Linked DNA regions of Homo sapiens: region 2 is linked to region 1. Evidence: fine-mapped expression QTL. A gene starts in region 1. The other region holds a variant in brackets. All regions are shown on one strand. Distances are between the middles of the regions. Region 1 holds the start of PDSS2 (decaprenyl diphosphate synthase subunit 2). Region 2 overlaps PDSS2 (decaprenyl diphosphate synthase subunit 2).

Region 1 (4,394 bases):
GTAATAGTAGGCTTATTCGTTTCATTAAGCTTTAAACATATGTGTATGTGTTTTGAGTGTGTATCATCTAGAATCTCTGGAAAACTAACATTCCAGCTAATCATAAGGTGACATTCCTGATAACTGGGAACGATGCCAAGGAATAAAATCACTTTATTATTACTATTTGATAACTTTTGTAGTAAGAAAATGACAGGTGCCTCGAAAAATTAAAGCAAGGGGTGGGTAAGGGAAGTGAGTGTGGCTAAAAAAGCAACATGAGGAATCCTTATAGTGCTGAATATGTTCTTTATCTTAACTGTATCAACATAAATACCCTGCTTATGATATTACACCATCGTTTCAAAAGATGTTACCATTGGGAGAAACAGGGTTAGGTGTATATTAGATTTGTGTTATTTCTTCCAACTGCATGTAAATCTAAAACTACTTCAAAATAGAAGTTTACTTTTAAAAACAACAATAGAAAAAGGTCCTTTTAGTCCTGGATTTCTCCACCTTGGCACTACTGACATTTTGCAGCACCTAATTATTTCTTGTGGGTCTGTCCTGGGAATTGAAGGGTAGCATCCCTGGCCTCTATCCACTAAATGCCAGTAATGTGCCTCCATTCGTGACAACCAAAAATGTCTCCATACATGCCAAATGTCCTCAGGGGGGGAAAATTGCCCCAGTTGAGAACCAGTGCTCTAGTCATAAAAGCCAAGAAGAGATATGAAAATGTTCCTAATTGAAGAAGATGAAAGAGATATAACAACTAAACGCAATACTTGATCCTGGACTGAATCCTGTCCTGGAGGGTAAAGAATGCTATAAAGAACATTATTAGGCCAATTAACAAAATTGAAATTAAATGGTAGATTAAATAAAAGTATTGTATCAATATTAAATATACCTAAGTTGGTAACTGTAGCGTACTTACGTAGGAGATTACTGCTATGCTTAGGAAATACATACTGAAGTATTTAGGGGAAAAGGATCGTGATGTATGCAATCTACCATCAAATGATTCAGAAAAAAATATATAGAAAGATATATACACGTGAATAGTATATATATCTGTGTGTATATGTATTTAATGTATATATTGACATATATAGACATATCTACGTAGCAGGTGGATCTGATTAAAGAGTATGCAAGTGTGTTCTTTGAACTATATTATTTTTGTAACTTCGCTGTATGTTTAAACTAATTACAATTCAGGTGTGGGGTTTAAGTGGAAGAAAAAAAAAAAACTTTTGGCCGGGCACGGTGGCTCACGCCTGTAATCCCAGCACTTTGGGAGGCCGAGGCGGGTGGATCACGAGGTCAGGAGATTGAGACGATCCTGGCTAACACGGTGAAACCCCGTATCTACTAAAAATACAAAAACAAAATTAGCCGGACGTGGTGGCGGGCACCTGTAGTCCCAGCTACTCCCGCCTGGGCGACAAAGCGAGACTCCGTCTCAAAAAAAAAAAAAAAAAAAACTTTTATAAATCCTAAAGGCAGGTTTCACAGCAGTAGTACAGCATAAGTGATAAACATCCCAAGAAGATAATGACTACTAACGGGATAAATTCCTACTTCAACCCCAAGACATTCGTTGGAAAGAATTATCTACCTTCAGCCTCTCTCTCTCTCCTTGCCTACTTTCTGGAGGTGACCCCCTGAACAGTGCGGGACAGAAAATTAATCTATCCCATTAAAAAAAAAAAAAATTTCTAGGAAGTGACTCAATAAACCTACATCTCCGCTCGATTTCTCCACAAATCACTGAGGCATCTTCATCCTCAACAATTAAGAAGCAAAATCGAGGAAAGCATACAAGTGTTTCAAAGAAAACCACTTATGCACTCAGCTGAGCAAGAACGTTAAGTGGACTAGAGAAGAGACAACACGGAATGTCTAGGAGGAGTGAGTAAAAAGGAAGGACTAAAAAGAGATAAATCAGGAGCCAGTCTGAGAGAGCTAGAATGCGTATGCCCGCCAGAAAAAAAAGTATTCCAATGAGTGCGAGTGTGTCAGCGGGAGAGGGGTAGCTCACCTGGCTGTGGTAAGCAGAGGGTGCTGAGTGCCCACCAGCTTCCGCACCTGCATAGCGATGTTGCTGAGCTCGTCGCTCAGCAGGCAGCGAAGGCTCATGAAGGACGTGGGGTACCCCACGATCTTCTCCGCCTCTGACACTACCTGATTCCAGTGGGCCGGGGACTTGGAGGACCGACCACGCCAAGAGCCCACCGAGGAGATGGTGTCGAGGGACGGGGACCACCACAGGCGACGCGGGGAACCCGAGGCTCCAAGATAACGTGGCAAGTGCAACAGCAGCTGCCGAAAGTTCATGGTTTGAGTCTGGAAGGGTCTGGGACCTGGGGGTATCCAGAAGTGCCGCGGGAAACAAACCAGGGGCAGAGGAGGAACTTACAGTAACTAAAAGGAAGCGGCAATTCTTGACCCTCAGAGTAAGGTGGCTTCCTGGAGCAGTGACCAGAAACGAACTTTAACTGCTGCTTTCTGCAGCCCAGGCTGGGCAAACAACAGTCCCAGCTCAGCACTGCCCCCGGCCACCCGGGGTAGAAACCACAGCCACTGCCTATGTGGAGGACGCCATATTGGAGGCATGGAATGCGGCCTGCCGTAAAGACAGAGGCGGGTTGTTAAGTATACTCTCTACTTTACGGCGTACCCGAGAACGCCCCCGCAGGGGCGGTGCTTTGGAGGTGAACCCGGGTTGGGAGGTTCAGCTCCTCCCACCCCGCCGCTCTGGGCCAGCAAAGGTCGTCAGTGACAGGGATCAGTTGTGGGCGGCGAGTGGTCCCTCTGCACACGGTATCTGGGCCGAGTCTGGATTCATTAGAGTCCCCGGCGCCCAGCACTGAGTGGCATGCATAAGTATTGGTGTCACGAACAACGGTCAGCCCCCGGCTTGCCCGCAAGGAAGGGCGTCGGGCGGAGGCACCAGTTCCTCCCGGAAGCTTTTTGTCGCTATCGCCACCAGCCCCTGGCAGTGGCAGTGGCCGTGGCCGGGCGTGAAGGCGGCCTCTCGGGCTGCATGCCTCCTGGAGCTGGGGCCACGTCTCAGTGGTGGAACGCCTAGTCGGGGCGTGGGGCTGAGCCCTCGTGTCCTCAGGGCCCAACCAGACATAAGGCAGCGTGGTGCGGCGGAAAGGGGTCCCAAGGAAAGTCCTCGGATCCAACTTCGAATTACCGGCCTCCTCGCTGAGCCTTGGGAGAAACAGCGGTGCCTCCTTCCCGCGGGTGCGGAGAGGAAGAATGAAACGTTGCCTACTCCCTGCCTCTTATCTTCCTCTTTATGCCTAGCCTGGAGCTCAACTCCAGGATTGAAGACTATCGCTGACCGGAGTGCTTTTCACGTACTAGTTCATGTATTACTTTATTTAATCCTCAGAACAACCTCATTAAGTAGATAATATTAGTATTCTCCGTGTTTTGTATGAGGAAACTAAGGTGCAGTCGAGTCGCGTAAGTTCCCTAAGACCACACTAGACAGGGATGTGAGCCCAGACAATCTGGTTTCAGAATCCGTATTCTAACCGAAAGATTACACCGTCTAAATAATAGGCTCCCATCCACTCTTTTCTCCTTATTGCTGAGAGGAAACAGTCAATATGATTATCTTTTAAGTAATGCTACCTATTTTTTTTTCAAATGTGCCTAAGATCTTACCTCCTTTCTTATCACCTAAAACAGGTGTTAACCGTTCTTAATAAAGGATATATTATCCATTTTTTACACTCTTAAAAATAGCTTATAAAACTCTCTAAAACTTTCAAAATCCTTCCAAATTCATGGTATTTTATTTTTATTTTTTATTTATTTTTTGAGATGGGTCTTGCTCTGTCACCCAAGCTGGAGTACAGCGGCGCGATTTCAGCTCACTGCAACCTCCGCCTCCCAGTTTCAAGCAATTCTTGTGCCTCAGCCTCCCAAGTGGCTGGGACTACAGGCGCCTGCCACCACGCCCGGCTAACTTTTGTATTTTTAGTAGAGACTGGGTTTCACCATGTTGACCAGGCTGGTCTCAAACTCCTGACCTCGAGTGATCCGCCCACTTCGGCTTCCCAAAGTGCTGGGATTACAGGTGTGAGCTACCAGCTACCATGCCCAGCCTGTCAGTATTTTTTAAATGAGCATCATGCATAATACTGTACCAGCCTCTTGAGCTACAAATAAAGATTGGGACTTAAAGAGTAGTTGTTCACTTTGCAAAACAAGATGATTTTCTCTACAAAAGATTTAGCTTCATACTCTCCCTTTGGCAAGTTTTCCTTGTGATTTAAATTTTTTATTTACAAAAATTCAGTTTAGGTGTAACTTTTCAGGGGCACATTTTATTTAACATGAATTGTGATTATAAGTATCAAACACAGTCTATGCCCTTAAAGTAAGTA
Region 2 (4,394 bases), 270 kb before region 1:
TCCTACCAGGGGAACCCTAAGCCACTAAGTGTGATGCCTATATTAGCCTGAACATCATGACCACAAAAAGCAGAGCACACAAAGCAGGGAGGAGTAGACTTTAGGTCATGAGATGCATTGCCAAGAGTCCATAACATACTGCATAAGGCATAATACTGCAGACATCTCCCCAAGACTTAGTAGAGAAAGATATAATCTTTCTTCTCTATGTTACTTGGATTTAAGTCTGTTTAAGGCTGACAGGTCTGGATTAACTACCTAAATCGAGTTATGTCTTTAAATATCAGAATAGCACTACATATTCAAGGAGGGGTGGGTTTCTATTTACTGGCATGAGAAATACTATTACTGGGCACTTGAAAAGACAACCTTAGGCAACTTTGGGATGGAATGTATTACACAGTCAATATACTCTTAAGGCCCGGTGTGGTGGCTCACGCCTGTAATTCCAACACTTTGGGAGGCCGAGGTGGGCAGATCACCTGAGGTCGGGAGTTTGAGACCAGCCTGACCAACATGGAGAAACCCCATCTCTACTAAAAATACAAAAATTAGCTGGGTGTGGTGGCGCATGCCTATAATCCCAGCTACTCAGGAGGCTGAGGTAGGAGATTGCTTGAACCCAGGAGGCAGAGGTTGCAGTGAGCCGAGATTGTGCCATTGCACTCCAGCCTGGGCAACAAGAGTGAAACTCCATCTCAAAAAAAAAAAAAAACCTCTTAAAATGACTAATTTGAGTCTACGGTCCTCGATCCCAGACCTCTCCTAACCTCCTGTACGTCTCCTAACATAACACGAATGTAATACTCATGCACACATGTTTGTCAAGCACTCCTATGTAAGCCTGTGCTAGGGAGGGTGATGCAACCATGAGCAAGGCCACCGAAGCACCTGCCGTTAGATCTTTTACATGCTAGTGGAAGAAGAAATAAACATGCACTTAAATACAAACTGATAATTTTATGTTATGATAAATGTTAAGGAGAAAAAAACAGAGCAAAGGTGGAGTGGCTACTTTAGATAGGGAAGCTGGAGTCAAGGGAGCTTGTGATGGCAAACCCTGGCAGTCGTGTTCATGATGGTTGTCTTGGCACTAGCATAGTGCCTCCAATATATTAACATCAAATAAAGGCTGGGTGAGGTAGCTCATGCCTGGAATCCCAGCACTCTGGGAGGCTGAGGCGGGCAGATCGCTTTGAGTTCAGGAGTTCGAGACCAGCCTGAGCAATGTGGTAAAACCCCATCTCTACAAAAAATACAAAAATTAGCTGCGCATTGGTGGCTTGCACTTGTAGTTCCAGCTACTTGGGAGGCTGAGGCTGGAGAATCACTTGACCCCAGGAAGCGGAAGTTTCAGTGAGCTAAGGTTGTGCCACTGCACTCCAATTTGGGTGACAGAGTGAGACCCTGTCTCAAAAAAAAAAAAAATTTAAATTTAAAAATAAATAAATGTCGGTTGGGTGAAGGAGTGTGTCTGGACCTCAGGATAAGAATGTCTCCTCCCAGATTTAGAATGGGCCTAGGGAATAGAACAGCACTACTCTAAACTGCTCGTTCTGCACTGAGGAAACTAAGAAAAGACCAAAGAGATTAAGTGAACAATTTGGTTTGGATGTTTTATCCCCTCCAAATCTCATGTTGAAAAGTGGCCTCCATTGTTGGAGGTGGGCCTAGCGGGAGGTGTTTGGGTCAGGGGGTCTGATCCCTCATGAATGGCTTAGTGCCATGCCCTTGGTGACGAGTGAGTTCTCACTCAGTGAGCTCATGCATGATCTGGTTGTTTAAAAGTGTGTGGCACCTCCCCTCTCTTGCTAGGTGACATGCCCAATACCCTTTGCCATGTGCCATGATTCTAAGCTCACCAGAAGCCTAACCAGAAGTAGATGTCAGCACTATGCTTCTCGTATACCTGCAGAACCATAAGCCAATTAAACCTCTTTTCTTTTTCATTTTTTTTGAGACAGGGTCTCACTCTCACTCCCGTTGCCCAGGCTGGTGTACAGTGGCGTGATCACAACTCACTGCAGCCTCAACTTCCTGGGGTCAGGTGATCCTCTACCTCAGGCTCCTGAGTAGCCAGGACTATAGGTGTGCACCACCATACCTAGCTATTTTTTAATATTTTTAGCACGGAGTGCAGTGACACAATCTCAGCTGACTGCAACCTCTGCCTCTCAGGCTCAAGCAATCCTCCCACCTCAGCCTCCTGAGTAGCTGGGAGTATGAGTGTGCACCAACATATCTGGCTAATTTTTGTATTTTTTTTAGAGACAGGATTTTGCCATATTACCCAGGCTGGTCTCGAACTCCTGAGCTCAAGTGCTCCTGCCTTGGCTTCCCAAAGTGTTGGCCACTATACCCAGACATATATTTTTTTTCTTTTTATTTTTTTAGACAGAGTCTTGCTCTGTTGTCC[A/G]GGCTGGAATGCAAAGACATGACCTTGGCTCACTGCAACCTGTGCCACTGGGGTTCAAGCAATTCTCCTGCCTCAGCCTCCCGAGTAGCTAGGATTACAGGCACGTGCTACCACACCCGGCTAATTTTTGTGTTTTTAGTAGGGACGGGGTTTCACCATGTTGATCAGGCTGGTCTCAAACTCCTAACCTCAGGTGGTCCACCCCCATGGCCTCCCAAAGTGCTGCGATTACAGGTGTGAGCCACTGTGCCCGGCCCCAGCCAGGTATTTTTTATTGCACGGCAAGAAAAGACTAACACAGTGACTGTTACCAGATTTTGCATTGAGTTGGTGGCAGAGCCATTGCTTGGTCCAGGGGTGCTCTTATTTGTGCACCATATTTTTCTCTTTGCCATTTTCCAGTGGAAATCTCTTCCATTGTCAAGTGCTTCTGTGATAAGAAACCCCAGAGGCATTCTTTGAGTCATAAAAAAAGCATCACCAGTCTGGGTAACAGCGAGACCTCGTTCCTTAAAATTAAATAAATAAAGAAAGAAAGAAACAAATAAAAAAAAATAGCCGGGTGTGGTGACACATATCTGTAGTCCTAGTTACCTGGGAGTCTGAGGCAAGAGGATCATTTGAGCCCAGGAGTGGGAGGCTGCAGTAAGCTATGATTGTGACACTGCACTCCAGCCTGAGTGACAGAGTGAGACCCTATCTCTAAAAAAAAAAAACAAAAATAACCAAAATAAGCATCAATGTTCAATTGTCACTCTTTTCCCTTATCTTTTTATTCATATGTTAGCTTTCTGTCACTACCACAGTAAAAATCCCAGTCTTTATCTTCAAACTAGTTTACTACAACCTTCCTAAGCAATCTTCTTAACCCTGCTGATATCCTCAAACTGTGTCAAACGCTTTCCTTTCCTCTCTGCCTTGAGAACCAATGCCCTATCCCCCGATTTTCTCCTGCAGCAGGTTGCTTCTCCCCAACTTACTGCGTGTGTTTTCTATTTTCTTACTCATGGCCTCTGTTCACTCGCTTACTTGCTCATTCACTCGTCACTTACTAAGTGTCAAGTACTGTGTTGGGTACCAGATATACTAAGAGAAAAAAGAAACTGTCTCTGCCCTCCAAGAGCTCACAGTCTAGGATCAGTCTCATAAATGGATCATTATAATATAACAGAGTAAGAGCAGTGACTGAGAAATGCACAGTGTATTGAGGAACTGAGGAAAGCACCTAATCCAGCCTGGGAAACCACAGAGGATTTGCTATAGGAGACAATCCCAAATTAAGCTTCATAGGATGAGCAGAGGGAGCCAGATAAAGACGGCAGGACATTCTAAGCAGAGGGGACAGCATGAGTGAAGGCGCAGAGAACAGAAGCAGTATGCTTTATGAAACTTGGTGCTGCTGCAGGACCATGGGAGATGAAGCTGGAGGGTCTCTTTAGGGGAGAGATCACACAGCCCCGTATATGCCAACCCAGCAAGCTCCGAATGTGCCGGATAGACAACACAGAGCAATGAAGGGGTTTTTTTTTGAGACGGAGTCTTGCTCTGTCGCCCAGGCTGGAGTGCAGTGGCGTGATCTCGGCTCACTGCAAGCTCCGCCTCCTGGGTTCACACCATTCTCCTGCCTCAGCCTCCCAAGTAGCTGGGACTACAGGCGCCCGCCACCATGCCCAGCTAATTTTTTGTATTTTTAGTCGAGACGGGGTTTCACCGTGTTAGCCAGGATGGTCTCGATCTCCTGACTTCGTGATCCGCCCGCCTCCACCTCCCAAAGTGCTGGGATTACAGGTGTGAGCCACCGTGCCCGGCCTAGAGCAATGAAGGGTTTTAAGCTGGAGAGAGAAACGGTCAGATTGGTGGTTTAGACAGCCACTCTGGCTGGTAAAGATCTGTGGGGACAAAAGAGAGGCAGTGGAGACTGAGCAGTAGGTTTTTCAGTGTTCAGATGAAGAGACTATGAGCACGAGGAATGGAAGAG

Evidence for each region. PIP is the estimated chance that this variant, and not a neighbour inherited with it, causes the effect. A credible set is the group of variants that fine-mapping cannot tell apart.
Region 2: its variant is the best candidate, but not a certain one, in a credible set for the expression of PDSS2 in liver (GTEx, PIP 0.73).

What each region holds. Positions count from the first base shown.
Region 1 is chr6:107,456,961-107,461,354 of GRCh38, forward strand. PDSS2 (decaprenyl diphosphate synthase subunit 2) reads right to left here and starts at 2,604. Exons shown (of 8, transcript NM_020381.4): 1 at 2,030-2,604. The coding sequence starts at 2,325. RefSeq lists enhancers at 2,475-2,924, 2,645-3,566.
Region 2 is chr6:107,186,965-107,191,358 of GRCh38, forward strand. The region is part of intron 7 of PDSS2 (decaprenyl diphosphate synthase subunit 2); the gene reads right to left. Among named protein-coding and RNA genes, the nearest start is that of BEND3, 74 kb to the left of the region's middle. The variant A/G (reference allele first, on the strand shown) is at 2,417.